Homo sapiens: one gene and its partners. The protein of the gene in region 1 purifies or fractionates together with the protein of each later gene. This does not show direct contact. Each region holds a gene or a part of one and is shown in the gene's direction. Other genes may lie near its edges. The genes, in order: PLXND1, STAM, ADCY9, ENTPD2, VSIG1 and STAM2.

What was found.
Region 2: the proteins of PLXND1 (region 1) and STAM fractionate together in Homo sapiens (co-fractionation; one large-scale study listed by BioGRID). This does not show direct contact.
Region 3: the proteins of PLXND1 (region 1) and ADCY9 purify together in Homo sapiens (co-immunoprecipitation; one large-scale study listed by IntAct). This does not show direct contact.
Region 4: the proteins of PLXND1 (region 1) and ENTPD2 purify together in Homo sapiens (co-immunoprecipitation; one large-scale study listed by IntAct). This does not show direct contact.
Region 5: the proteins of PLXND1 (region 1) and VSIG1 purify together in Homo sapiens (co-immunoprecipitation; one large-scale study listed by IntAct). This does not show direct contact.
Region 6: the proteins of PLXND1 (region 1) and STAM2 fractionate together in Homo sapiens (co-fractionation; one large-scale study listed by BioGRID). This does not show direct contact.

What each region holds. Positions count from the first base shown.
Region 1 is NC_000003.12:129,557,395-129,562,206, reverse strand, and holds part of PLXND1 (plexin-D1 precursor), read left to right. Parts: intron 1-303; coding exon 304-407; intron 408-497; coding exon 498-561; intron 562-1,483; coding exon 1,484-1,518; intron 1,519-1,772; coding exon 1,773-1,877; intron 1,878-2,423; coding exon 2,424-2,587; intron 2,588-3,631; coding exon 3,632-3,779; intron 3,780-4,812. UniProt on the Homo sapiens protein: Cell surface receptor for SEMA4A and for class 3 semaphorins, such as SEMA3A, SEMA3C and SEMA3E. Plays an important role in cell-cell signaling, and in regulating the migration of a wide spectrum of cell types.
Region 2 is NC_000010.11:17,685,040-17,689,870, forward strand, and holds part of STAM (signal transducing adapter molecule 1), read left to right. Parts: intron 1-2,987; coding exon 2,988-3,134; intron 3,135-4,831. UniProt on the Homo sapiens protein: Involved in intracellular signal transduction mediated by cytokines and growth factors. Upon IL-2 and GM-CSL stimulation, it plays a role in signaling leading to DNA synthesis and MYC induction. May also play a role in T-cell development.
Region 3 is NC_000016.10:3,990,194-3,995,024, reverse strand, and holds part of ADCY9 (adenylate cyclase type 9), read left to right. Parts: intron 1-700; exon of another isoform or gene 701-1,514; coding exon 1,515-1,619; coding exon of another isoform or gene 1,620-1,676; exon of another isoform or gene 1,677-1,983; intron 1,984-2,116; exon of another isoform or gene 2,117-2,661; coding exon 2,662-2,879; exon of another isoform or gene 2,880-2,895; intron 2,896-4,831. UniProt on the Homo sapiens protein: Adenylyl cyclase that catalyzes the formation of the signaling molecule cAMP in response to activation of G protein-coupled receptors.
Region 4 is NC_000009.12:137,051,262-137,056,584, reverse strand, and holds the start of ENTPD2 (ectonucleoside triphosphate diphosphohydrolase 2), read left to right. Parts: upstream 1-2,523; 5' UTR 2,524-2,587; coding exon 2,588-2,704; intron 2,705-3,209; exon of another isoform or gene 3,210-3,575; intron 3,576-3,709; exon of another isoform or gene 3,710-4,236; coding exon 4,237-4,354; intron 4,355-4,924; coding exon 4,925-5,075; intron 5,076-5,214; coding exon 5,215-5,323. UniProt on the Homo sapiens protein: In the nervous system, could hydrolyze ATP and other nucleotides to regulate purinergic neurotransmission. Hydrolyzes ADP only to a marginal extent. The order of activity with different substrates is ATP > GTP > CTP = ITP > UTP >> ADP = UDP.
Region 5 is NC_000023.11:108,065,028-108,069,858, forward strand, and holds part of VSIG1 (V-set and immunoglobulin domain-containing protein 1 isoform 2 precursor), read left to right. Parts: intron 1-1,908; coding exon 1,909-2,107; intron 2,108-4,831.
Region 6 is NC_000002.12:152,119,129-152,123,959, reverse strand, and holds part of STAM2 (signal transducing adapter molecule 2), read left to right. Parts: intron 1-24; coding exon 25-194; intron 195-3,157; coding exon 3,158-3,386; 3' UTR 3,387-4,831.

The sequences.
Region 1 (4,812 bases):
GGTTAGGCCAAGGGTTTCATCAGCAATTGTAACATGAACAGCCTTGCAGACAAGGCCATTTCCAGAGCTCCTCCTCTGTGCCCTCCACCCTGGCACCTTCTCTTTGTACCCTCACACTCTCCCCCAGCTCTTTCCTGCCCTCCCCATTTTACAGATGGGAAAATGGAGGCTCAGAGAGAGGTATGGCTTGCCTCAGTTTACATGGAGAGAGCGAGAGGCCTCTCCCTATGTGGCTGGGCCGGTACCTACCCCTCAGGCCCAGCTCCCTGCCCGGACCCTGATGGCCTGTCCCTTGTCCCCCAGAGTGGTTCGCCTCCAGCACACAGAGCTACATCCTTCGGGACCTGGACGACACCTCAGTGGTGGAAGACGGCCGCAAGAAGCTTAACACGCTGGCCCATTACAAGGTGCAGCCCTGCCCCCCGCCCCCATTTCCCCACCCTCATGCCCCCACCCCAACCTCCGGCCTCTGACCTCGGCCTCTCCCCTCCCATCAGATCCCTGAAGGTGCCTCCCTGGCCATGAGTCTCATAGACAAGAAGGACAACACACTGGGCCGAGGTAGTGCGGGTGCACGTGGGAAGGGAGCCCAGGCTGCGTGTGGACAGGGGCTTCCATCCCATGCCCCAGTGGGGAAGCTGAGGCTCCGAGAGGCAGGGCTGGCCTGGGCTGAGGCCTCCTTGGTGGGGGCTGGGCGGGGCCAGCCTCCTCTGACCCAGTACTGCTGGGGCAGGGCCCACACCAGGCCTCCTCAAGCTGATTTCCTGCGGCAGCTGGAGAGAGGCCCCGGGAGGGCGGGATGCAGTTCCAGGAGGTCTGGGCAGCAGCCAGGCCAGAAGGGGGGCCAGCATGCCCGTCTCAGCCTTGGGCCATGTCCCTGCCTCAAGTGCCCCCTCCACACCCTCAGACGCCCCAGGCACAGCCTCCTGGCTGCCAGGCCTGCGAGCCCGGGATCCTCTGGGTCTCGGGGTCCCCTTCTAAGGTTGAGAGCAGAGTCTCAGTCTCTCCCAGCAGCCTGGGAATCTGGGCTGGCAGGAGCTCTGGGCTCAGGGGTGGGGTGGGCAAAGGCACCCACCCCCGCCTGCCTGGGGCCCCTCCTCCCCCGTGGCTGCATCTTCCTGTTTCTCTCCACCGCTGTCCCTCCTTCCAAGTCCCTCCATCCCGGGTCACTGTGTGTGTGTCTTTCTCTCTCTGCCTCACTCTGTCTCGCTCGCTGTGTGTCTCTGGATCTCACTTATCTCTCTCTCCGTCTCTCCCAGACTCAGTCTCCCCATGCGTCTCTGCATCTCTGTCTCATTCTCTCTGACTGTCTCTTTGGATCTCTGTCTCCGTTTCTGTTTCTCTCTCCATCTTTCTGTCTCTGCTTCTGTTTCTCTCCCCATCTTTCTGTCTTGTTTCTGTTTCTCACTCCATCTTTCTGTCTTCATTTCTGTTTCTCTCCTCTCCTCTCCCGTGTTTATTTATTGTGTTTTTCCTCTCACAGTGAAAGACTTGGACACAGAGAAGTATTTCCATTTGGTGAGTGCCCAACCTCGGCCCCGGGGGATCCAGCCCCTCAGTGGGTGTGGCCTTGGCTTTCTGTGGCCCTGGGCCTCTTGGGAAAAGTGCTCCCAGCCCTGCGAAAGGCTGGGGGGTGGGGGAGTAGGGATGGGGCCCAGAATCAGGAGGGAACCACAGCCCTTGTGTGCTAAGAAGCATGGCAGAGCCAGACCTCCCACAGGCGGCCGAGGATGGGGCCTGGTGCGGACACTGACCACTGCCCGGCCTCCCAGGTGCTGCCTACGGACGAGCTGGCGGAGCCCAAGAAGTCTCACCGGCAGAGCCATCGCAAGAAGGTGCTCCCGGAAATCTACCTGACCCGCCTGCTCTCCACCAAGGTGAGTCCGGCCTCAGTCTCCCCTCTGTGCAGTGGGTACAAGGCTCCAGCCCCAGCTCCAGAGGGTCATTGCTCAGGGCCAGCTGTGCACCCGCGGCTGGGAGAGGGGTGTGAGTTCTTCCTGTTTCCCCTGTGGGGCTGGAGGGGCAAGAGGCTGAAGGCTTAGGGTCCCACTTGAGGAGGCATTTCTCACAGCCAGGAAAAATGCCTGACAGAGACTTCTATGTTAGCCCACGTAACAGGGTACAGCAGAGGCCCAGAGGGATCAGTGATGTCCCCAAGGCCACGTGGCTCAGTGGCAGCGCCGGCACCCCACAGCCCATACTCTGGCACTTCCAGTTCTCGACTCCATGTGCCAGTGCCTCGATTAGTCCTTTCAACGCCTCTGGGAGGCAAGTGAGCCAGAGAGGCTCGGTGACCAGCCTGATGCCATGTGGCTTCCTCATTCAGCAGCCTGGCATTTCAAGCTCCGCAGAGCCACCAAGGGTGCCCACTAGCCCTCTGCACGTGGCCCGGGGCTGACGGCGGCCACCCCACTCCCCCGCAGGGCACGTTGCAGAAGTTTCTGGATGACCTGTTCAAGGCCATTCTGAGTATCCGTGAAGACAAGCCCCCACTGGCTGTCAAGTACTTTTTCGACTTCCTGGAGGAGCAGGCTGAGAAGAGGGGAATCTCCGACCCCGACACCCTACACATCTGGAAGACCAACAGGTGGCGGGTGGGGGGGCCGTGTGGACTTCACTGTGCCACTGGGGCCCCTGTGGCAGGGGGTTCAGAGTCTAGTCTTCTGGCCTCGCCTGCTTGGGGTCAAGCCCTCCTCTGCCATTTCCCAGCTGTGTGTTCTCGGATGAGTGACTTAGCCTCTCTGTGCTTCAGTTTCCCCTCCACTGTAAAATGCGACCCATGTTAATGGTGGGAATTAACTAGAAGAGTGCCCAGAAGCATGGTCTAGGTGTTGCCCTTACTATCATTCTCCCGCACCCCTCTCAGGTGGGCACCATCAGCTCCACTTCACAGATAAGCACACTGAGGCTCGGAGAAGCAGCACCTGCTCAAGACCACACAGCCTGGGACAGTAGAGCCAGGCTCGGCCCTACATTATCTGAATCTCTTACCCAGTTGGTAGCCCTCCTTTGAGGCACCTCTTAGCTTGTCGGGGTCATGCACCCCCACAAGAAGTTGCTGGAAACCCAGCCTGACCCTCAGGAAGAATACCACCAGCCCAGGCGCCTCTGTGCAGGGCAGCAGCTTCCTAGAGCTCTGGGGGTACACATGCCCAGGCTGCTGAGTCACTGGGTGGCCTGAGGTGGGGGTGGGGGTGTTGCTCACCCTCTCTGGCCTCTTGAGGACAAGGCCAGAGCTCCAGGCCCTGCCCCCCACAGCCCTGCCACAGCTGCTCTGCTAATGTCGGACTTCCTGCTGCCTGCAAGGGTTCAGGGAGGAGCCAGGGGTGCCCGGGGGCCGGCACCTGGTTCTAATGAGAACCAGGACCTGACTGGAGGCTCAGGAGGGGGTTGGGGGGTACAGCTAAGCCCTGTAGCTCCTGCCTTGCTCCAGCAGGAAACCGGGCTCTCAGCCCCACTGCACCCCAGCTGGCCAGGGATAGGCAAACTAAGGTTCCCAAAGGTCACATCTTGTGACAAGGCTCCAACCTCAGGCCCTTGAGGGACAAAGCCAGCTCTCTCCTCCACAACTGTCCCTCGACTGCTTCCTACCCCACCCTACCCTCACTGTCTTTGTCACCCTACCCCACAGCCTTCCTCTCCGGTTCTGGGTGAACATCCTGAAGAACCCCCAGTTTGTCTTTGACATCGACAAGACAGACCACATCGACGCCTGCCTTTCAGTCATCGCGCAGGCCTTCATCGACGCCTGCTCCATCTCTGACCTGCAGCTGGGCAAGGTCAGCTGTTCCCAGGACCAGGCCAGGCCCATGCACAGGGCCAGAGTGGGGTGCCGACCATGGGTAGCCTCCTCGACTCTCTGAGGCTGAGCTCAGAGATCTTCCTGGGAGGGGAACCAAAAGATCTCAGGTCTAGGGGATGTGGGATGAGTGACTCATTCAGACAGGGAGACACCTAGAAGCCAGTACCTTCCATCAGAAACTCTGTATCGCTGCAGACCAACTGCACATGCTGCAGCTGTGCCTGGCACTGGCTTTGAACACAGGCCTGAGAACCCGGTGTGGGAAAGCCAGTATGAGCTTGGACAACCTGCTTGGTCAGGCACAACATCATCTGAAAACCGGGCCAGGCTCTGGGCAGTAGCCCCTGAAAGTCAAAAGCCATTCAAGCGAGCATTCAGTGAAGGGGTGGGCAGAGGGGTGATGGGTGGCTAGGAGCTCTGAGATTCATGCGGTGTGTTGGGGGCACACAAGGCTGTGTCTGGCTTTAGAGGTTGAAGATGAAAGAGGATGGCCTTCCAGGCAGAGAGAACGGCGCAGGCAAAGACAGGGAGGCAGGAAAGCAGCCGGTTGCTGTGAGCAGGGATGAGATTGTATCATTAAAGCTGGCACTGCAGGATTGGTCCAGGTCGTGTGTGACCCTGCATTTAGCCCACGCATTTCAGAGACGGACCACGGGAAGGAGAAAATGCCATCGCTCCACTACTACTCACGTACTGCCTCCGAAGGCAGGGTGCCCGTGACTGACAAAGAACTGGGAGTGTTCTTGGCACTTCTTTCAGGCGTTAGGAGCATGTGGTGGGAAATATTCCACTGAGCCAGCACTCAGGCTTCCAGGAATCCTAGCCACCAAGACCTATCACCCTGAGAAGGACACATCCTTGTTACGTGGAATGGGCTGCGTGCAGTGAAGAGCTGGCATGCCCGTGCACTTTTCCCCTGAAAGAAGTAGGGCCCCTCCCCACCCACATCATTGTCCTAACAGTCCTGGGGAAAGTAGGCGGGGCAGACAGAGCACAGTGAGGAGCCCCTG
Region 2 (4,831 bases), on another chromosome or scaffold:
GCTGTGTCTATCCAGTATATAAATAAATATTATGTTTTGTTGAAGAGACTGCGGATTCATGTAACTTTGAGTTAGTTTTTTCAAGCCATATTAGAGTGTTTTTAACCTGTTCTTTTCCATCATACTTTCATCTGATAAGAAAACAGGTATTTCTATATCTAATTAAATAATATCAGTCTATTTTACATACTGTTTTTGTAGGCACAAGGTATTTTCCTAATGGAAAACCTTTCAGAAACACTGCAAAAAGTCTATGGCACCGTTGAGTTTTTATCTTTATCAATAAGGCTGCTTCCTGGCCATCACAGGATTTTAATACTATACTGCTATTCTTACTGGCTGAACCCACAGCTGGAGTTGCCTCAAAAGTGGTGGCGGGGGAGTTTCCACAAGGGACTGCCCCAAACTGTTCCAGATAGGGCCAGATGAGAGTCCAAAAAAAGAGGCACTAAATGCCAGGGTGATCAGTCTAAAGGATTTATTAGGGGAACTTACACAGGAGGGCTGCAGTTTATAGGAGGGTTTAAGGAATTTGGCTCAGGGTTGGGGCTGGTTTCTGTGTGTTTAGCAACATACTTGATCTTTTAGTGTTTTGGGCCACAACCTGAACAACTTTATCAGTGCCTGAGAATGTTCAAGGCCCCAGTTTGGGTCCAAACCTATGGTGGAAAACATGCAGCTGGCTAGGTCACAGAGCGGGACAAGGCACTCTGTTTTTCTATTGGGACACAGAAAGAAAGCAGGGAGAACTGGGGACCCTACAACTGCCCACTCAACTGTAGAATTCTAGTCACACAGTTCAAGAAATTTTTCAATTTTCAATTAGTAATATGTGAGTTTCCCCAGTAAAAATTTGTGCATTCTAAAAGTAATTATTTTTGGCCTTTTTAGGGGGAGTACTGTAAATCAAGAAAAAGTTTTTGTATGTTAAAAGGGAAAATGCCTCATGTTTTTGGGAAAAATGAATAGTTCCAGGTTACAGTAGAAAAATAGCAGTATAGAAATATAGTAAGAATGTAAAATTCTGTACTTTTCGAACATCATGGTTAAATGATAATTCTTTCCCTTTCCTGCTTTATGCAGTTAATATTTATTTTCTACTAATTAATAAACATTGTCTTTTAATGTCCTGAATGTCCATCGAGATTACAACTGTTTATGAAGAGATTCTAATACCATGTTTTTTGTAATGTAGGTGAAAAATGTGGTATACTTACCTATGTATAATAGTGCAAGCAGCCATTTCCAAAAACGACTTCCTATAGGCAAGAGGACTTCTCTTTATTTTCTGAATGTTTTACAGTGAACATATTGGTTTTGTACTTAATAACATCCCGCCTTTTTTTTTTTTTTTTGAGACAGTGTCTCTCTTTGTCACCCAGGCTGGAGTACAGTGGCGTGATCTCAGCTGACTATAGCCTCTGCCTCCCGGGTTCAAGTGATTCTCCTGCCTCAGCCTCCTGAGTAGCTGGGAATACAGGCATGCGCCACCACGCCTGGCTGGTTTTTGTAGTGTTAGCAGAGATGGGGTTTCACCATGGGGATGGTCAGGCCAGTCTCGAACTCCTGACCTTGTGATTGCCCACCTCGGCCTTCCAAAGTGCTGGGATTACAGGCATGAGCCACCGCGCCCAGCCAACATCCTGCCCTTTTAAAAAATTTCCTTTTATTAAACAAATTAAGTTCATGTATAGTCTCAATAAAGCGTTTGCAAATCCATTATATGCTCCTTGACCAAAATACAGATTACATGTGCACTTAGAAAGAATTTTTTTTCTTCTAATAGAGTAATCTAAAAGTCTAACCTTCTCCATTTTTAAAAGCTTTAGCCAATTATTTAGTAAGCATTGGTTTGAAATACATTCATGACATTTCATAGAGGAGTTATTTCTTCTCTGGTATCTGTGAAGGTTTCTTTATATCTATTACATCAAATAGTAAGACTTCAAATTATTGCCGCTATGAAGATACATCAGTATTTTAATGAACTGGCCAGGTTTTTTCCCTTAATAAGCAATGAGTAAAATAATTTATTTTGAAAACTCACTACATTTATCTCTTTCTTTAATACGGAAGAATAATGCCCTGCACACCTGCCTTAGACTAACTTGAATCTTTGTTATACATCAACCATAAAGAGTTATGTTATTTTGGGCTGGGCACGGTGGCTCATGCCTGTAATCGCAGCACTTTGGGAGGCTGAGGCGGGCGAATCAGTTGGGGTCAGGAGTTCAAGACCAGCCTGGCCAACATGGTAAAACCCCGCGTCTGCTAAAAGTACAAAAATTAGCTGGGCATGGTGGTGCGCGCCTGTAATCCTACTCGGGAGGTTGACACAAGAGAATCGCTTGAACCGCATCCCCCACCCCCCTCTGGGAGGCGGAGGTTGCAGTGTGCTGAGATCGAGCCACTGCAGTCCGGCTTCTGCCACAGGGTGAGACTCTGTCTCAAAAAACAAACCAAAAAAAAAGAAAAGAAAAGAAAGGAAAAAAAGTTATGTTATTTTGAAGAAATTAAATTTTCAAAATGATTAACATGCAGTGTACCTCAAACTAGGCCCCAGATAATTAAGCATCATGGAAAAAATGCATAGTCATGAACATTAAGAAGTCAGGAATTTGGAATAAAGGAACTGTATCATTTATTCTCTCCTTCCCACTTTTTTATTGCTTTGCAAAAAGCAGACACTTTTCCTTGTCTTACTGATGTACAAACCTTGCTTCGTTGCAAAATATTCTGAAAAGTCCTTTCAGATCTCCAAAATCTTATTACCTATTTAATGCTTTAATTTGAAGTGAGATATATATGATGGGTTTTTTCATAGTGTGAACATTAGTTTTATTTCGAATAACTATATTTTCTTGTCTATAGCTATGCATAACTTGTGATTCAAAAAACATCACTTAATAACTTTACTATTTAAAATGTCTGTATTAAATCATTGGCTAGGAAATTGGTGCTCTTTTATTTCTTTTTCTATTTTACAGGGTCATCCTAAAGTATGTGAAAAATTAAAGGCTCTTATGGTTGAATGGACAGATGAATTTAAGAATGATCCACAGCTTAGTCTAATATCAGCAATGATTAAGAACCTTAAGGAACAAGGAGTTACGTTCCCAGCTATTGGCTCTCAGGTATTTTGGGAATGAAGTTGTGTGTGTGCTACAGTTTGTTTCTCTTAAATAGCTATATTTATTTGAATTTTTTTCTTCATTCCCAGGTAATTTTTACTACTTCAGAGGAATTTTCGTTAGCTAATTGTGTTAGTAACTAGTTGTATTGCTAGTTAGTAATACTAGTTTTCTGGCATTCAGAGGTGCCAGAAAAGTATTATAATGGAATATTAATGTGCTCTAACCTCTCTACTTCTTTATAAACGAATTGGTTTAACATTTTGCAGTTTTTGAAATTTTTTGGTATAGTTTTTGTTTGTTTGTTTTTGAGACGGAGTCTTTGTTTGTCGCCCTGGGTAGAGTGCAGTAGCGTGATCTCGGCTCACTGCCACCTCTGCCTCCTGGGTTCAGGTGATTCTCCTGCCGCAGCCTCCTGAGTAGCTGGGACTACATGCACGTGCAGCCAGACCTGGAAATTTTTTTTTTTTTTAAATAGAGGTGGGTTTCACCATGTTGGCCAGGCTGGTTTCGAACTCCTGACCTCAGGTGTTCTGCCCGCCTCGGCCTCCCAAAGTGCTAGGATTACAGGTGTGAGCCACCAGGCCCAGCCAGTACAGTTTTAATAATATACACAAAATAGCTTTATTAATTAGGTAACACTGTCTTTTTAAATGCTCTTAATGCTATAATTTTCTACAAAGAATGATAGCTCAGAAATCAGGATATCCTTAAAAGTTAGGGATGACTTGAGAGATTCTTTTGTGGAGGAAATTTATGAATTCCTCTATTAACAATGAGAGGACTTTAGAAGGGGTAAATGGGAAGAGAAGCACCTGAAGCATTTTCTCCTTAGTAAGAGCCGACCAGTACATAAGTCTTCCTTTCCCCAGTGGATATGGCTAAATAGCTTAACTTTGCTCTCCTGTCCACCCTTGTGCCAAAAAAATTCAGTCTCTAATTTATGTCATGTAGAAAAAAATCAAGAAATGTCTTTTTTATTCCTATTTCTATTTTGGGTAACCTTCCTTTAGGATGCCCAACTAATCAAGAGGCTTAAAATATGTGCTGATTTACTACACTGTCTTTCCCCAGTTTATTGACTGGGACAGACTGTAATGAGTGATGTGAAACCATGAACAGAAATCTGTGAGTGTGGAGGGGCTTATGTTTTGACCACTTCAGGGAGTCATGTAGCTTATCTACATTCATCCAGACCTACATGTGCTTTCTTCCCAAGGCATTTCCAGTTTATCTGAGCACTCTTGAGATGTGAAGACTCAAAAATGTATCTGGGAGAGGAAGGAAGCAAAGGACATTCTTCTTCTTAAAAAAATTTTGGTTTAAAATTTTCTTAAAAAAATTATGTCTTTGAAAATTCATTCATTCATAACTGATAGCTGGTTTTTACTACTCAGTATAGTTTCTAGAATCTGTATAATTAAGGAAAAATCTTAAACAGAATAATCCAAGACATTATACATTCCTTGACAACAGAAACAATGTTTATTTATCAAAGAGTAGACTCACTGCAGAGAACCCACCTAGAATAGGTAGAGAAAATGCAAGCCCACTAAATATCTAGAGTCTTTGGTTCTTGTTAACTCAAAACTTGGTTTGACCAGCATCACTGGCATTACCTGGAGGCTTGTTAGAAATGCAGCATGGTTGAACCCACTCCAGACCTATGGGTTCATTATCTCCATTTTAACAAGATCTTC
Region 3 (4,831 bases), on another chromosome or scaffold:
GAAATAAAGGCTTTGCTCTTTTTAGGGTACCTGTATTAAATCTTGCCTTCTCTTTTCTAGGTCCATTAATTCCTATAAACTTTTAAGTACGCCTAGATCTGGAAATCGTGTACCTTTGATTATTCAGCCCATCTTATGAGACTAGCTCACCATCACACGGAGCTTAAGAACCTTGGATTTGTGTCCTCGCATAGTTGGTGGCCAGTTTCTTTACTTAATAACAGCTTTGTTGAGATATAATTCACATACTATAAAATCGATCTTTTTGGCCAGGCACAGTGGCTCATGCTTGTAATCCCAGCACTTTGGGAGGCCAAGACGGGTGGATCACCTGAGGTCAGGAGTTCAAGACCAGCCTGGCCAACATGGCGAAACCCCGTTTCTACTAAAAACACAAAACAAGTAGCCGGGCGTGGTGGCAGGCACCTGTAATCGCAGCTACTCAGGAGGCTGAGGCAGGAGAATCGCTTGAACCCAGGAGGTGGACGTTGCAGTGAGCCAAGATCGTGACACTGTACTCCAGCCTGGGTGACAAGAGTGAAACTCCATCTCAAAAAATATTTAAAAATCGATCTTTTTAAAGTGTACAGTTCAGTGGTTTTTAGTATATTTAGCAAGGTTGTGCAACCATCACCGTGATCAATTTCAGAACATTTTTATCATCCCAAAGAGAAACCCTGTTGAAATACCACAAACCAGGTGGCTTTTAAACAACAGAAATGTATTTCTCAGGGTTCTGGAGGCTGGGAAGTCCGAGATCAAGGTCCCGGAAGATTCAGTGTCCAGTGAGGACCCGTTCCTGCTTCACAGATGGTGCCTTCTCCCAGGGCGAAGGGACGAGGGATTCCTCTGGGGCCTCTTTTATGAGGGCACTAATCCTATTTTGAAGGCTTGTCCCCCATGACCTAATTACCTCCCAAGGCTTTGCCCCCCAATGCCATCCCCTTGGGAATTAGGATTTCAGCGTCTGACTTTTGAGGGGGCACAAACATTCGAATCGTAGCAAACCCCACGCCCCTTAGCAGCCACTCCCCCTTCCTGCCCCCGGTCCCGCCTGGCAGCCAGGAATCTGCCTTCTCCCTCCAAGGATTCACCTTTTCTGAATATTTCACATAGACGGGATCACGTAATATCTGTGCTGTGTCTGGCTTCCCTCCCCGAGCATAATGTTTTCGAGGTTCACCATGCTGTGGCAGGCGTCAGTGCTTCCGTCTTTTTCGTGGCTGAGTAATATCCCATTGTTCGAATAGACCACAGTTTGTTGATCCATTGTTCAGTCAGTGAACATTCCCGGTTCCATTTTTGGGTCCTGTTGCGTTCGTGCCCGGGTTTCTGTGTGTTTCCACTGTCACTTTGCCCGTTGGCTTTCAGCTCATCCCCGAGCGGTTCTGTGTGCCTTCCCCTTGCTCACCACCATGCTGCGTGACGGCAGATGGCAACAGCGGACCTGCCTGAATTCAGGGTGGCAGTCGCGGTTTCTGGGTGTGTCCCCACAGTCTGTGTTTTTCTTCTAGACCTGCCCTTCGTGCGGAATCACATTTGCTCCCAAATCTGAAGCCGGCGCCGAGGGAGGAGCACCTCAAAACGGCTGCCAAGACGAGCATAAAAACAGCACCAAGGTAACAAGCTCATGGCTGTTGTTCCTGTCAGTTCCTCTCCTGGCGCATCCACCCAAGGTGACATTCCTGTCTTGTCGACTTCTTAGTTCTGAGAGTAACTCCTCTTGGGTAACAGCACTCCGCACCCGCGGGTCCTCCGGGTGTTGAAGAGACCGGCAGGGAGCTCGAGGGAGGGTCAGCAGCAACCCACGTGGAAACCAGCGCTCAGGGGCTGAGCTGGGCGGGATTCCTTTAAAGGCCAATAAGGGTTTAAAATGCGTGGATTCGAGTGCCGGGAGGGGATTTGTGGTACTGGAAGCTGGACTCAGTTTATGAGAGAATATAGACGGGCAGAGACAAGAGGGGGTCTTCACGGCGAGAAAGGCTGGGTGAAGAGAGAGGTTGGGAGTTAGGGCCGGTGGCAGGAAGGCTTTCAGGAAAACCAGACTTGGACACCAGGGCCAGGACTCAGCCCACCCGCGAGAGCCTGTCGGCGGGGGCTCATGCAGGCGACTCACCTGGGGCGCGGGCTCTCGTCCTCCATCTGCTCTCCATCTGCCAAAGGATTGCAGGTGCAGGTCATCCCATGCCTTCCCACAGCCACGGGGGACACCCACGACACGAGCCCGTTTCCATCCACCTTGCCTGTGCCCTGACAGCCCTGGACCCCTCGTCATACTTCTCCTGGACCCCCGACCCATGCACCCTGCTCCCAGAACCGTGGTTCTGGCCTAAGCAGACTCTGGGGGCCTCGGCTCCTCACTTTCCTCCCTTCCCCTCCACCTCCGCACCGACTCTTCCCATGTCTCAATGTCCTGGCAGCCTGAACACCCAGCGTTACCACTGGGCACTGTTGGGTAACAGGAAGGAGCAGACGGGCAGTCAGGGCTGGGATTGGAGCAGGTCTGTAGGCGCAGGGGGGTGGGGGTTCCTCGCAGGTCAGAAAGTCCCACGCCCAGTGCAGCAGCGCCCCGCAGCGGAGGTCGGGGTGGGACAGGCGTGTGTGCCCAGTGCCCGGTGCCACTTCACTTCCCGTGTCTGCGTCCTCTTTGTCTCGAGGCAGGCTTCTGGAGGACCTAATCCCAAAACTCAGAACGGGCTCCTCAGCCCTCCCCAAGAGGAGAAGCTCACCAACAGTCAGACTTCTCTGTGTGAGATCTTGCAGGAGAAGGGAAGGTGGGCAGGGGTGAGCCTGGACCAGTCGGCTCTCCTTCCGCTGAGGTTCAAGAACATCCGGGAGAAAACGGACGCCCACTTTGTGGACGTTATCAAAGAAGACAGGTACGACTGGGGCTGTCTGGGAAAAAGCAAAGGTTGCAGGCAGAAGCCTCTCTGCCTTTTTCTTTTCTTTTCTTTAAGACTGAGTCTCGCTCTGTCATCCAGGCTGCAGTGCAGTGGCGCGATCTTGGCTCACTGCAGCCTCTATCTCCCAGGTTCAAACGATGCTCCTGCCTCAGCCTCCCAAGTAGCTGGGGTTACTGGCACCCACCACCATGCCTGGCTAGGTTTTGTATTTTTAGTAGAGATGGAGTTTCATCATGTTGGCCAGGCTGGTCTCCATACTCCTGACCTCGGGTGATCCACCTACCCCACCCTCCCAGAGTGCTGGGATTATAGGCGTGAGCCACCACGCCTGGCTTTTTTTTTTTTTTTTTTTTTTTTTATAAGGACTAGGTCTTGCTGTGTTGCCCAGGCTGGAGTGCAGTGGCTCAATCTCGGCTCACTGCAACCTCCACCTCCCAGGTTCAAGTAATTCTCCTGCCTAGGTCTCTCAAGTAGCTGGGACTACAGGCATACACAACCATGCCCAGCTAATTTTTGTGTTTTTAGTAGAGATGGGTTTTTAACATGTTGGCCAGGCGGGTCTCGAACTCTTGGCCTCAGGTGATCTGCCCGCCTCGGCCTCCTAAAGTGCTGGGATTACAGGTGTGAGCCTGTGCCTGGCCTAATGGTAACATTTTTGAAAAATACAGGTCCAGTCCTTTTATCAAATATTCCTGAAGTTGGATTGGTTAGATTCAGGCTCTCCCTCTGGCCAGGCAGAGACTGCAGAAGGGATGCCGTGTCCTCCTCAGGGTGTCCTCTCCAGGGACACGCAGTGCCCGTCTGTTCCTCATTAGTGATACTAATTTTGATTAATTAGGCAAGGTGGTGCCGGGTTGTCTCATCTAGGGTTATTATATTCCTCTTATGACTAATAAGCAATCTGTGAGAAAATACTTGAAGATCTTGTACATATTTCATTCCCCATCAGAATTCCCTAGATTTAACATTCATTGATGATTCTTGCCTCTGTCTTCACTATAATGCCTCAAAGGGTGATTTTCAGCCAGGCGCTGTGGCTCACGCCTATAATCCCAACACTTTGGGAGGCCGAGGCAGGTAGATCACCTGAAGTCAGGGGTTCAAGACCAGCCTGGCCAACAAGGTGAAACCCCGTCTCTACTAAAAGTACAAAAATTAGCTGGGCGTGGTGGCGGGTGCCTGTCATCCCAGCTACTCAGGAGGCTGAGGTAGGAGAATCGCTTGAACCCAGGAGGCAGAGGCTGCAATGAGCTGAGATCGCAGCACTGCAACTCCAGCCTGGGCAACAGAGCGAGTCTCCATCTCAAAAAACAAATAAGAAATAAATGGAGCAGCACAGCTAATAGCAGTGTCGCTTCTGCCACTTGACTGCTAAAATGTGGCCTTGTGCACATCCTCTCTGCAGCTGCGTGGTTGCTCTTCCCTCAGTCCACACTCCCTGAGTCAGGGGAGGAGAGAGGGTCAGTGTCCTGGGACAGAATTATTTCTCTTCTGAGTCTGAGAATGTTGGAAGTTACTGGATACCTGTCACAGAAAGGAGAGTGTCCGCCGTGCTGCAAGGACAGGAAGGAACACACGTGATGAGCCGTACTTTGTGTGGGGGGCACATGAGGCACTTGACATATTTCACCTGATTTACTCTTTTTTTTTTTTTTTGAGACATAGTCTTGCTGTGTCACCCAGGCTGTAATGCAGTGGCGCCATCTTGGCTCATTGCAACCTCCATCTCCCAGGTTCAAGTGATTCTCCTGCCTTAGCCACCCGAGTAGCTGGGATTACAGGCACCTGCCACCAGGCCTGGCTAATTTTTGTATTTTTTGTAGAAACGGGGGTTCACCATGTTGGCCAGGCTGGTCCCGAGCTCCTGACCTCAGGTGATCCGCTTGCCTCGGCCTCCCAAAGGTCTGGGGATTACAAGGATGAGCCAC
Region 4 (5,323 bases), on another chromosome or scaffold:
TTCTCCTGCTTCAGCTTCCCGAGTAGCTGGGACTACAGGTGCCCGCCACCACGCCCGGCTAATTTTTTGTATTTTTAGTAGAGATGGCATTTCACTGCGTTAGCCAGGATGGTCTTGATCTCCTGACCTGATGATCCGCCCGCCTCAGCCTTCCAAAGTGCTGGGATTACAGGAGTGAGCCACCGCGCCCGGCCCACAACCGGCTAATTTTTGTATTTCTATTAGAGACGGCGTTTCACCATGTTGGCCAGGCTGGTCTTGAACTCCTGACCTTAAGTGATCCACCTGCCTCAGCTTCCCAAAGTGCTGGAATTACAGACGTGAGCCACACAGCACAAGCTTCTGATGTGGAGACTGAGGCAGGGCAGCCAAGATGTCAGCAGGCCTCAGGAAAGCCCCCCTCCCTGGGAGGTCTGAGCCCTGCGTGGGCGGGAGGCTCCGAGTTCCCTCCCCCAGGGGTTCTCCCCTAACCTCTCTGCATCCGCATGTTCCCAGCTCAGCCGGGGTCATGTGCAGCACATCTGGAGGCCCCATCCCCGAGAGGGTCCTGGAAGCCGAGAGCTGCCCCACCCAGAGGCCCCTCCACCCCTTCAGCTCCTGCCAGCTTCCCTCTGACGCTCTCCCAAGTCTGCCTTCCAGGGTCCCTGAGTCCATGCCAGGAAGGGGCGTTCCCCCGCCCTCACTCCGTCTCAAAGAGAGCTCAGCCTCAGCCTTTGTCCTGGCCGCTCTGGGCTCCCTGCCTCTCCCTCCGCAGGCGAAGCTGGGCACTCGGCCATGAGCCTGTCTCCCCGGGGCAGAGTCCAGCTCCCCTCTCCCTCCCCATCCTCTCAGGCCTGGCAGACCTCCCACTCCCTGGCTTGAGCTTTTTGTCCATGAAAAGAGTCCAGAACACCAGGAAGCCCCGCTGGGCCTGGAGGGAAGCGGGGTACCGCAGGCCAGTGGGGGTCGCAGCACCCTGCCTCTGGGCGGCCTTTGTTCCTTCCTTTTCAGGCATGATGTGCACTGTGCGTGCCTCTCCCTCCTCTGGGCGGTCAGGGGTGGAAGAAAGGCCTGGGGTGTGTGGGGGGAAACTGGGGCCTGGGGCCTGGAGCTTAGCACCGGCAACACCCAGAGATTGCCTGCTGGAGCCCCGCCAGGCTGGGCTGTGAGGCTGAGGCAGCAGAGAGGCTTCCCAGGGTTCCCACCCCTCCCTTTGGGGTCCTGAGCTGGAAGAAAGATGCCTTTACTGGGCCTGTGGCGCCAGACCCTCAGCCCAGGCAGCAATCCCAGCACAATTGTCACTGCCCGTTCCAGAAGGCCGGGCATGGTCTGGACCCTGCCCCATGGGGCTGCCCTTTGGGCCCCAGCAGCCTGCACTCCCTGGTGGCCTTGCCTCGTGGCTCCCTGACGCTGTGTGGCTGGAATTATTGGGACAAGAATTCCCACTTTGCAGCAGGCGCAAAGGGGGTGGCCCCTGGCCGGGCTGGGATGCGGGGCCTGTGAGGCTGCAGAGCCGAAAGGCCAGCCATGTCGTGGGACGGAGGAGCAGGGCTTGCGTCTGGGGCCAGCTGCGCTTCGCCTGCCCCAGCCGTCCCCAGAAGCCTGTTGCTGACCCGCACCCCAAGCTTGGCCTGGGGACCCTCTTCCTTGCCTTTCAGGCCACGTAGAGGCCCCACCTGTTTCCGTCCTGGGGAAGCCTCCTCTGGCCTCCGCAGCCCAAGCCTCTGTTCCCCTCAGGCCGAGGGGGCAGCAGGCGCGGCTGAGGCCCTGGGCTGGGAGGTATGGACCTTTGGCCCGGTCTGTGCTGCTTCTCCTGTTTCTCGGCTCGGTGTGACCTGGGCCGTCCCTCCCCTTCCCCGTTCCTGCGTCCTCACCTTCACCTCAGTACAGGGCCCAGGTGAGGTGGATCTGACTGGGCCTCAAGGGTAGTTCTGGCCTGGGTCAGCTGCGTGTCTCTGGAGCTGACCTGCGCTGGCTCAGCGCCGCAGGCTGGCGGATCCTTGCTGGCCGGGAGGGCATCCCGCAGGCCAGCCTGGTCCTCACCAGCCCTGGGAGTTGGCGCTCAGGGCCCTGCTCCACAAACAGGTGCTGACCCTCGGCTTCCTCCTGAGTCCCCAGCCCGGGCCCCGCGTGGCTCCGCAGCCGACAGTGCCTCATTCCTGCAAGCGAGTCTGGCCTCCTTTCCCGGGCCCGGGAAAAGCGCGGCTCTCCAGCACAGGACCCTCCGAGCCAGCCTCGCCCGCCCACCCCCACGCCAGGTCTCCTGCCTCCACGGCCGGGGGATCCCCTTGCTGAGTGGGCGGGAAGGGGAAGGTGGGCCATAGCCGCGGGGCGCCCGGGCTCAGACCCGGGAGCCGGGGGGCGGTGCTGGTGACTCAGCCGCGCCCGCGTCTCTCACCTGCGCGGGCCGGACGGCGGAAGCTTGGGAGCGGAGGCGAAACCTGTCCGCCCGTGGGCGTGGCCGGTGATGGGCGGGCCCGCCCGGCCTCCCGCCCCTCGTCCCGCCCCGGGGCCCCTACCCCGCGGTCCCGCGGCCCCGCCCGCCTCCGCCTCCGGCTCCCCGCACTCTCCGGGTCCACGCATCGTCCTCCCGCGCGCCCGCCCGCCCATGGCCGGGAAGGTGCGGTCACTGCTGCCGCCGCTGCTGCTGGCCGCCGCGGGCCTCGCCGGCCTCCTACTGCTGTGCGTCCCCACCCGCGACGTCCGGGAGCCGCCCGCCCTCAAGGTGCGCGCCCGGGCACCCAGCGCACGTCTGGGGAGCAGCGGGCCGGGCTTGGAGCCGGGGAGGGGGTGCGGCTGGGAACCTGAGCAGGATCAGCCCGGGACCCCCACCGTGCTCTGCTCCTGGCGGGCTGGGTGGGGTCCCGGGTTCCGCGCTCTGCGCTCCCCGACCGGGTACGCGGAGGGGGCGGGGGGCGGTGGCGCTTCCAGGGCGACGCGGTGCTGAAGGAACAAGTCCCGGGAGTTCCGCGCCCGCCGCCGAGTCCGTCAACGCAGCCCAGGGGCTGTGTCCCCGCTCCCGGGATAGCCCAGCGATGCCCCCTGGGTGCTGCCGGACGCCCGCCCCCAGGCCTGTGCGGGCCCCCAGGGGCACTCCGGGCCACTTCTGCCCTGTGCCGCCGCCCCGGAGGGTGCGGTTAGAGCCACATCGACTGGGTATTCAGCCCAGATGGGGATCCACAAGCCCCAGGACCCAGGGCCCCCGCCAGGACACGAGAGTGGCCCAGAAAGACAGGAGGGCTTGACCGGAGCAGCCCTGGCCGGTCCTCAAAAGGTTGGAGCAGGCTAGCCTGGATCTCCACTCCAGCAGGCCCAGGGACCTCCTGGTCGGCCCCTTTAACCCTTTATTGGGCTTGTAGGGGGGTGGGGTGGAGAGCCAAGTCCCCCAGCCTGATGGGGAGTCAGAAGCAGGGAGCTCTGCGGCCCTGCAGGACGGCCATGTGGCGGTGCACGCGCTGACCTGTTGATGCTCTGGGCTCTGGGGAAGCCTTGGTCGGGATGGACTGGTGCGGCCCTCTCGGAGGCTGGAATTGGCGCCCGGGCCTGGGAGGCTGGTCCCCAGCTTTCCAGGTGGATCCAGGATGCTGGGGCAGGAGCTGGAAAAGGGCATTTACAAGCTCGTGCCACTCAGGTCTGCAGGAAGGCCCACCCAGCACCCCCAACAAGGCAGGGCCAGCCTCTCTCTCTGGCCCTGGCTTGGAGGCCTAGGGAGAGTGTCTTTAGAGCTGACCTGGCTCTGAGGCCCACGGCCAGCCTCGGTGGACCTTCTTCACCTGGGGCCCTGCCTCCTGCATCCTCAGGTTGGGCTGCCGTCAGAGGAGCTGGAAGGAGACAGAGGAGGAAGGAAGAGGGGAGGAAGGAAGAGGGACTCTAGGGAGCTCCTCTTGCAGAGGAGCTTCCTCTCCCTGAGCCTGGGAAACTTGTGCCCCAGGGAAAAGTCCCTGGGGACCCTCTGTCCCTCTGTCCCTGACTCAGTCCCTCAGTCTGCCCTTGCCAGGAAGGCTGCTGCCCAGACCCTGGCATGCTGGCTTCAGGTAGTCAGGAGGGAAGAGTCACCTCCCCACCACCTCCCTGTTCTCCTTCCAACCACGGCCTCAGAGGAGGCCCTGGCCTCCTCTGAGCTTCAGCATGAGGCTTGGCACATGACTGGGTGGGGGGGGGAGCGGTGGCAAACTGGAGGAACCCAACTTCACGTTTGGTGTCAGGGTGTCAGGGCCCCCGGACACCCCAGGCTGACTCCCTCCCCCTCCCCCGCAGTATGGCATCGTCCTGGACGCTGGTTCTTCACACACGTCCATGTTTATCTACAAGTGGCCGGCAGACAAGGAGAACGACACAGGCATTGTGGGCCAGCACAGCTCCTGTGATGTTCCAGGTGAGGCCCAGCCCAGCCCAGCCAGGACGCCCACTCACTGCAGGGTCTCTGGGACCCTCTCCAGCCTTAGCCAGTGCAGGTCCTTCTGCTTAGTGTTGGGTGGGGCTCACTCCAGGCAGAAGCCCTGGAAAGAGAGAGGCTGGTGCCCCTGCGCCTGAGTGGGGCCAGGAGTCGTTTGCATTCTAGAAAGGAAGCCTAGGCAGCAGGTGGGGAGGTTTGAGCCTCGCCGGGCCCAGTATTGGCTTCTGTGCCCCAGATGGAGCAGGAGGAGGTCTGGGGGCCTGGCGGACACACCCAGGCAGGCCTCAGGAGGCCAACCTGGGTTGACCATGCCCAGGGCTTTGTCCTAGCACCTGCACCCACACCCTCTCAGCAGGCAGCAGCCTTGGTCTCCGGGTGGCACCTGGGCCCCTTTGTCTCCAACCTGGGCGTTTCTGGGGGCTTAAGCAGGGAAGGTGTGCCACCTGGTCTGGGAGCCCACGGCCCCCACCCCCACCCTCACTCTCCTGGCCTACGGCCCACCTAGGGGCTGCCCGTGAGGCATAGGCTCATCTCTCTGCCTCCCTCTAGGTGGGGGCATCTCCAGCTATGCAGACAACCCTTCTGGGGCCAGCCAGAGTCTTGTTGGATGCCTCGAACAGGCGCTTCAGGATGTGCCCAAAGAGAGACACGCGGGCACACCCCTCTACCTGGGAGCCACAGCGGGTATGCGCCTGCTCAAGTGAGTGTGCCTGTGCCCTGGCCCTGTCCCCATGATGGCCTTTGGCTGTGACCCCTTGCAGGGCGGACTCCGAGCACCCCTACAGCAGGCTCACAGCCACCTGGGGAGAAGGCCTCTTGGAGTTCTCTGTGTTTTGCAGCCTGACCAATCCAGAGGCCTCGACCAGTGTGCTCATGGCAGTGACTCACACACTGACCCAGTACCCCTTTGACTTCCGGGGTGCACGCATCCTCTCGGGCCAGGAAGAG
Region 5 (4,831 bases), on another chromosome or scaffold:
TATAAATGGCTGCATTTATAATGCAAGCAAGAAAACACGTTGATGTTAGAAAAAACGGGAGAGAAACAAATAGTTTTCTCTGTAAATGTACTCTTTTCCTGGGATTTTTCCCTCAAAATCCAGCTTTCTGCCTTAGTTTTAAAATATATTGACTTTCTGCTTAAAGGAGAATACATTTGAATTCATCTAGACAATATCTTTTGGTTTTCTAATTGCTTTCCCTCTTTTATTGGCCTGTTAAGGTAAAGCCCACAGTACAAGGAATTAGGAAAATTGGATTCCAGATCTGTCTCAACCGTCAATTTTGCCTTTTATTTTTTAACCTCTCTGGGCTTTGGTTTCTTCTGTAAACTGAGGGAAGTGAATTAAATGAACTGTAAGGCCTTCCAGTAGATTTTATGAAAAATTAGTCTCACCAGACTAAGACAATACAGTTTATTGAACAATAACAATCACTTGAATAATATACATTTACATGAAACCAACAAAACATGTACATAGAAGGTGTGTATTATGAAGGGACCTCAGGAATTACCTAATCCAGTGATTTCCCAGCTTCAGTCATTCATGTACCATCTACATGATTTTTGTCATATTTGTGTATCACCAGCACTATTTGTTATTTAATGTTATTTTCTGTATTGACTTGTTTTCTTAAAATCTTAAAAAATATCTACCTTAATCTACCCTATGCAACAATATTCAGGAAGTCATAGATTTAATGTGCTAGATTTTTCTGTTTCTAATACACATTGAAATTTGTAAGTTTTCATTTATATACTACCTAAAATCAACTTAAATGCCTATACTTGGTAAATACATATCATACTTTGGAAAACATTACTCTCTTTTCTCATTCAGATGTGGAAAGTAAAGGTTGGAGAGATTAAATAACTTTGTTTCTTATCTAAAACCAGGCTGCCATGGAGGCATGACTAGAGGCCACCTCCCCTAACTATATCACAGTGAGGGGCAGAGCTGTGACTAACTCAAGCCACCTGACCCCTAGACCAGGACCCTTTCCACCACATCATGCTGCTCCCACAGTTGCCATTATGATCTAAGTATCTATGCTCTTTAATAGAAATGGGACTAGAATCCAGATCTTAAGTTTAATAAGTTATAATAATAATAAATGAGCCCTTGTGGCTTCAGATGGGTCACTTAATCTCTCTGGGTCTGAGATGCCTTATTTGTTTAAATGACAGAAGAATTCCAGTTCTGCCTTCTGCCACATGGGGAGAAAGATGGTAGCTATCATTGGCTGAGCACTTCCGAGGTCCTTTACTAGATTTCTTAGTTTCATCTTCACAACACCACTATAAAGGGATGGGACCAGATGATTTCTAAGATGCTTTTCCGCTTTGCTTCTAATAAACAAAACAAACCCAAGTTTGTCTATCCAAAAGAGTAGGTGTGTCTAAAAGGAGCATGAACATTTGAACATTTAAGGAAACCAGATAGTCTCACTGGGTAAGGTAAATTCAAATTTTAAGAAGTTTATAAAATGGTAAAAAAAAAAAAATGATGGTTTTGGTTTCCCATCAGACATTTGTGTTCTACATAATGAGTTTCTCTCAGGTGGATTCATTAAGTGAGCATCTTGATCTCCTAGCCCAAGCTTAGGTGTTGAATCCTGTCAGCTCCAGCTGCCTCCTCCTCTGTAAGATAGGCATACTAATCCCTGCCCTGATGACATCACAGAGCTGCTCTGAGGGCCAAATGCGCAGCTGTGAGCAAACTAAAGTGCCCCACTGAGTTGAGAAACCTTGGCCACAGGGACCTGTTCCTGGTGGGGGGAAGATGCTGCTTCTTTATCAAAGGTAATGTGTTTAGAAGAAGCTTTCAGGTAGCTTATCCTAGTCCTGGACTCTCTCCAGTTCTCACTTCTGTTATTTTTCTGTCTAGATTTACTTTTCTCAAGGTGGACAAGCTGTAGCCATCGGGCAATTTAAAGATCGAATTACAGGGTCCAACGATCCAGGTAATGCATCTATCACTATCTCGCATATGCAGCCAGCAGACAGTGGAATTTACATCTGCGATGTTAACAACCCCCCAGACTTTCTCGGCCAAAACCAAGGCATCCTCAACGTCAGTGTGTTAGGTATGAGCACTTTTTTCTGCTTTTTCTTTTCTTGGAAAAAGTTAGGACACTGAATGAGCCAGGACAGTGAGTTATGATGCCAATTAAGTCTCTGTAGGTAAATATACTCCCTAATATTTTCATTATCAGGGAAATAGAGACAAGCCACCAGCCCAACCAAAACAGTAACACTGAGAAATCACTCATAAAACATGCAGAACAATTGTGCAAACGGGCTGCCAAAATGACAGCAGTAGATGACCCAACCTCCAGTGATCCCTATCTCTGAGGGATGGAATGAGAACAGATGAGACAATCCACTGTCCCACAAAATGATCACTAGCAACTCTTTTAGAGGAAACCTCCATTTACAGCCAGATCTACCTGGGGGAGACTACTGTCAACTTATTATTCCTTTTAAGCTCGACACAATTCCCACCATTAAATTATTCTTTTAAATAAAGACAGGAGAGTCCCTTTTTTAAAATGCTAATGTTATTTGGAAAAAGGACTGAAATTAATCTAGTGTTGAGAATCAACATATTTACATACAAATATTCATTATATGATATTGGGCAAGCCGTATCTGCTCTTAAAATGAATTTGGAATCTCATTTGTTCAGTATTTATTGAGTTACAGTGATGGAGGTGTTGTTTTTGCCCTTGGGAAGCTCCCAATTTTGGCCATTTCTAGAAGTCCTTACAATCTCTGTCTGAGAGGACAATGTGGGCTAAACTTCCATCTGCAGGCTGGTATTGGGAAGTATCGAAGCAAGGGATGAAAGGGCTGCCAATCCTCAACTCTTACAGACAGACCAGTTGAGATGAGCATTTTCCCACTTCTAGGTAGCCCCAAATGAAGCTGATCTAGTCATTGCTGCTCTCAAGCTGTGTGCACACATCACAAGAAAGGAGGAACTACATCAAATCAGTGACTTAATAGTTGAGTAGCTTGGAAAAGCAGCAATTGGTAACAAGGTGCATACCCAAGAGAACTGTTTACAGTTGTCCTGGCTTGCCACTCAGGTAATGCCACAAAGGAACCAGCTGACATTTACTGTGAGGTTTGCCACTGCATCTACCCACCTGGGAAAGAGGGAAAGGTACCTAAGAGCTATTTTTTAAGAGTGGGTTAGCTTAATCAATCATATTTTTATCTTACTGAGTTCTGTGCCAGGAATTGGGGTACAGGAACAGACAAGAGAAGTATTACTCAAGCAAATTCCTGGGAGAGTTTCTGTTTCAGTTTGGAAGACTAGTGTATTAGTCTATTCTTGCATTGCTGTAAAGAAATACCTGAGACTGGGTAATTTATAAGTAAAAGAGGTTTAATTGTCTCACGGTTCTGCAGGCTGTACAGGAAGCATAGCAGCTTCTTGGGAAGCCTCAGGAAACTACAATCATGGCAGAAAGCAAAGGGGAGGCAAGATGTCTCACATGGCTGGAACAGGAGGAAGGGGAGGGGAAGATGCCACACACTTTTAAACAACCAGGTCTTATGAGCACTCATTCACTATCACAAGATCAGCACCGAGGGGGAAATCCGCCCCCATGATCCAGTCACCTCTCACCAGGCCCTATCGCCAAAATTAGTGATTACAATTTGACATGAGGTTTGGGTGGGGACACAGATCCAAACCATATCAACTAGTTAGTTATATACATGGGAACTAAGTGATGTGCTATAAATGCCAAAGCATCAAACTGGCACTCAGAAGACCTGAGTTTTAGATCTTACTCTGTACTCAGTGACCTTATACAAGTCAGTCCACCTTTCTCTGACCATTGTGAGATGGGGTTATAATTTCTGCCCTGTCTTCTTTACAGGTTTGTTATGAACAGTTTTGTTATTTTACCTATAAAATGAAATACTGGAGATCAAAGGGGTTTTTAAATGTTCAAAAACTGGAGGGATTAGCTAATGATTTTCTGTTGCTTCCTGGTTCTGGGATGTTCTGACCAGAAACAATCTAAAGAAGCCAAGTCTCTTCATCTCAGAGCTTGGAAATAGCCCTGAGATAAAGTTAGACAAGAAGGTTAATATTCTTAAATTTAAAGCTCAGAGGATCCCAAATCAATTTCCATAAGAAGTTGAGGGTCACTTCATCTCAGAGGTGTTTTTTCCCATGAGTCTTTGTGTCAGATAGCTCTGTGTCATGACTTTTCCTTAAGCAGCCAGGATCCAGACAAGGTAAGAGGCAGAAGGGTCTGTGGATTTCCTTGTTTGTTTAGGAACTCTAAAAAATATTGTTTTTGTTAATTGGGCAAAGAACAAAGGCCTCCTCCAAATGTAGGCTTTTTGGAAAATTTGAGACTGCTAATTTTCTCTAAAAATTGCAGCGACTATTTGCAATTCTCAAATCTCATTGTATATGAGTGACAATTTTGCTTGCCCTGACTGAAAGGTGAGGCAAGATGGGGACAGGTGGGTAAGAGAGACAGGTTAATTGTGGGGAGAGGTGTTGATATTTCCTTAAAGATGACTCTCATAGCAATGTATCTTTCAGATGTTTTGTTACCCAGCAGTGAGCATCAATCCCATGCATTTACTCGTTCATGCATGAATTCATTTAACAAACCCTGAGCACACGTGCCAGTTACTGTGCTAAGCAATGGACATGGGGAAATGTAAAAGATAGGGTCTTAGCCCTCTAAAATTCAGTCTAGTGAAGGAGACAGACGCGTAACATAAAAGCTTTCAGTGGAGGTATGAGAGGAGAGCTATGAGGGCACAGGGGAAAGGGC
Region 6 (4,831 bases), on another chromosome or scaffold:
CAACTTTTTCTTTCTGATTAATAGACATATCCAGTTCAATCACATGGTGGAAACTATATGGGTCAGAGCATTCACCAAGTAACTGTTGCCCAAAGCTATAGCCTAGGACCCGATCAAATTGGTCCACTGAGATCTCTGCCTCCAAATGTGAATTCCTCAGTGACAGCACAGCCTGCTCAAACTTCATATTTAAGGTAAGTTTTGGGAGCTGTGTTAATTTTATATGTGTTAATTTTCCTAGATTTTCAGAATGAGAATATATAGACCCTTATTAAGATGAAGTTACAGAACTGTTTATTCATAATCCTGTGAAGTGGAATGGTGTTACCTTAGCTTTGCTACCCATACTGAGATTATTGCCCGCCCTTAAGCTTACAGTCTGCATCCTTGGGGCAAAAGCTAATTGTCCTTTATGAGACTAAGCCCATGATGTGCTTAGCACTGTGCTATAATCAGCCTGTGAAGTAGTCCCAGACTTATTTATCTGCATGCACTCCTAAAAATTAGAAAACTGTTGTTACTTTGACCCTTAAGAAGGGCGTTTGAACTGTGGAATTTGTAGTTCAGGTTTTTTTGTTTTGTTTTTTTGAGACAGAGTCTCCCTCTGTCACCCAGGCTGGAGTGCAGTGGCTAGATCTCTGCTTACTGCAACCTCCGTCTTCCAGGTTCAAGCGATTCTCCTGCCTCAGCCCCCTGAGTAGCTGGGATTACAGGCACGCGCCACCATGCCCAGCTAATTTTTTTGTATTTTTAGTAGAGACGGGGTTTCAGCATATTGGTCAGGCTGGTCTCGAACTCCTGACCTCGTGATGTTCCACCCGCCTCAGCCTCCCAAAGTGCTGGGATTATAGGTGTGAGCCACCACGCCTGGCCAAGTTTTTTTTTTTTTAAGACAAGGTCTCACTCAGTCGCCCAGGATAGAGTGCAGTGGCATGATCTCAGCTCACTACAGTCTTGACCTCCCGGTCTCAAGCTATCCACCCACCCTCATCAGCCTCTCCAGTAGCTGGGACTACAGGCAAGCACCACCATGTTCTGCTAATTTTTGTATTTTTTTGTCAAGGTGGGGTTTCGCCATGTTGCCCAGGCTGGTCTCAAACTCCTGAGCTCAAGGGATCTGCCTGCTGTGGCTGCTCAAAGTGCTAGGATTACAGGCATGCACCACTGCACCCAGCCCTATAGTTCTTTTTTTAAATAAAAACACTTTTACTCTAAGAGTTGTATTTAAATCTTTCTTTCTATTCATTTTGCTTAACCATACAAAATGTTCATTCAATATAATCATATGTAGATGATCTATAAGGTCTCTTCTCACCCTCAAACTCCATGAGTATGAATTTTAGATATTATATGAATATTAAATAAATCTGTTTATATTAGTGTTCAGTTAGAATAAAATATAAAATTTTGCTATGTTTGGTAACACTAGGAACTGTGGAGAAAAAACTGGTGTAGTTTTGAAACTAATTCTCTTTTATTGCAAGCAGTATATTTGGTGGAATTTAAAATTACATAATTTTTTTTATTGAAACTTTTTTTATAGATGGGGTTTTATCACCCAGGCTGAAGTACAGTAGTGTGATCATAGTTCACTGCAGCCTCCAACTCCCGGGCTTAAGGGATCTTCCAACCTCTGACTCCTGAGTAGCTGAGACCACAGGCGCATACTACACCCAGCTAATGTTATTAATTTTTTGTAGAGATGGGTATTGCCATGTTGCCTGGGCTGGTCTCAAAGCAGGCTGACCTCAAGCAATCCTCTCACCTTGGCCTCCCAAAATGCTGGGATTAAAGCCATAAGCCTCCAAGCTCAGCCCTAAAACCGCTGGGCATAGTATGTATATATATGTGTATACACACACACACACACACACACACACACATATATATATATATATATATTTTTTTTTTGGGGACGGAGTCTCACTCTGTCACCCAGGCTGGAGTGCAGCAGCATGATCTTGGGTCACTGCAAGCCCCACCTCCCGGGTTCATGCCATTCTCTTGCCTCAGCCTCCTGAGTAGCTGGGACTACAGGCGCGTGCCACCACACCCAGCTAATTTTGTTTTTGTATTTGTAGTAGAGACGGAGTTTCACTGTGTTAGCCAGGATGGTCTCGATCTCCTGACCTCGTGATCCGCCCTCCTCGGCCTCCCAAAGTGCTAGGATTACAGGTGTGAGCCACCGCTTCCAGCCAAAAGTATATATATTTTAAGAGAAATGTATGCCACAGTAGTTATAGGAACAAACAAGTCTTGCAATTTGGTGTGATTTTTCAGCTTAGTTTGTGAAGTGTCAATAAAGAAACTATAGTTTCGGACTATCCTGAGGGTTGATTTTGGGCCCTATACAGACTATGCTGTTTTCCTTTTAAAAGTAGAAAGTCCTTACTGAAGGAAAGCTTGAAGGATGTTTACAGAGAAGAGGTGGACTTCTTTGTGCTGGATTGGGAGATGGGGAAGGGAGAATATGGGCTGAAAGTGGCATCTTGAGCCAGGGCTCCATTCTCATTGCAAATGGCCAAGGGTACTTCTGTCAGGAACAGTTTGCATCTCCTCAGGTGGTTTCTGAATGTTTTTAGTTAGAGATTCTGGAGAAGGGAAGTTAAATTGGCCTTAGAATCTTACATTTTGTTTGTTTTCAAGTACCTCTCTCTTCTTACCAAATATAAAAATTACATTAACAAGCTCGGCATGGTGGCTCATGCCTGTAATCCCAACGCTTTGAGAGGCCAAGGCCAGAGGATCACTTGAGCCCAGTAGTTTGAGACCATCCTGGGCAACATAGCAAGACCCAGTCTCTACAACAAAAATTTTTTTTTAATTAGTTGGGACTAATTTAAATTTTTTTTAAATAGTCCCAGCTACTCAGGAGGCTTAAGGCAGGAGGATTGCTTGAGCCCAGGAGTTTGAGAATGCAGTGAGCTATGATCTGCACCCCAGCCTGGGCAACAGAGCAAGATCCCATCTCAAAAATAAGAAGAAGAAAATTTGATTAACAGTATTCAATGGCTGGAATGATTAAATTGTAATCAGAACAGCAGAGCTACGTAAGCTTAAAAAGAAGATGGAAAAGGCATTTTTGTCATGATGATTGATCTCTAACCTTATATATTGCAAAGTAAATATGGTTTTCTTTTTAAAATTTTGTTTGTAGCACTGGACAAGACACTGTTTCCAATCCTACTTATATGAACCAGAACTCTAACCTACAGTCAGCTACTGGTACAACTGCTTACACACAGCAAATGGGGATGTCTGTGGATATGTCATCTTATCAGAACACTACTTCCAATTTGCCTCAACTGGCAGGCTTTCCGGTGACAGTTCCAGCTCATCCAGTTGCACAGCAGCACACAAATTACCATCAGCAGCCTCTCCTTTAGAAACAAATCAAGCATTTTCTTGAAAGCCTTCATAAGTGTATTATTCAGTCCTTGTGATACCAACCTGAAAATATTAAAACTTTTTTCCCTCTCAACTCAAAAGGACCATGAATAAATAAAGCACAAAAACCTCTCTTATTCTACAAGGCCATAAAAGGTTTTTTTTTTTTTTTTTTTTCAGTCCAGTTTGTTTGAAGTCAATCTTTTCATCAGAGGCAGCTTAAAGATGCTTTCAGTTAGTTTTGTCTTACTTTCAGATTTCTCTACATAAATCTAGATACTCATTAAGTAGCCTTATGACAAACAGTATGAGATACTTATGACAAACTCGCTCTGTCACCCAGGCTGGAGTGCAGTAGCATGATCGACAGAGTGAGTTTGTCAAAAGTATCTCATACTTATAAACAGTATGAGATAGGAGGATTAAAATATTATTTTAAAGAAACCACTGTTTCCCCCTAAAATGTCATAAGAGCACTGAAGAACTTGAAATATTTTTTTCAGAGTTTCTCACACACTTTAAAAGTCTAACTTTTTTGTGTGTAAGCATTTAGCTTGCCAGCATATTTCTTTTTGGCTCCTTAAATTGCGGTTGTGTTTGCAGTATTGTCACTTTTGCTCTCACTGTTATGTTGAATAATAATTAGCATATAATTGTCTACAGAAGCAAGAGCAATCTGGAAGGAACAAAAATGTTTTCTGTGATTAACAGTGAAGACCTTGTAAATGCAGATGTGTGATAAAGCATTTAGTCAGTCCCCCAAACAGTCATGCCAACTGTGAAGGAATGTCCCACAAAACATTTCCATTCCCTGAGGAAAAACATTTTCTTTCCTACATGTATCTCTGGTATTTAGAATTGTCACTAATAACCTTTTCAAGTGATTTTGGCTATTCTCTAATGAAGATATGGTCCATTTGTTTTTCTTCCTGCAATGTGGTGTGCAGAGATGCTGCATATCCTTTTTATGGGATTGCGTGTGAATTTGAACCATGAGACATTCCTAATAATTTGTTGTGAGATATACCAAGCATGGATGATAAGTGTGTTTTTAGTGGTGTGTTGTTTTTTTAAAGAGGTGATTCAAGTACCGTTGCTAAGCTGTCAACATACCAAGCTGTTGAAAAAATTGACCATTTCTTTCAGAAGTAATTCTCAGCCTGTGGAATAATAGCAGGTGAAGACTTCATAGAAGGCGACAGATTGATAGGGAGGCTATTGAAGCAGTTTTTCTGAAGCCTGCATTTTGAGTTAGTTTATAGTGCTAATAGATTCTATATAACTGTGAGAGTTTGGTAGTAAACCAGTAGGGATTGTTTTCTCTCCTAAAAATTTGCACACTACTTCATTGTCTACCAACTTTTTACATATTGGAAAATAGAAATTGCAAATACATACATGTATGGAAACATATTCAGATTGGGAAAAACAATGGACATTAGTT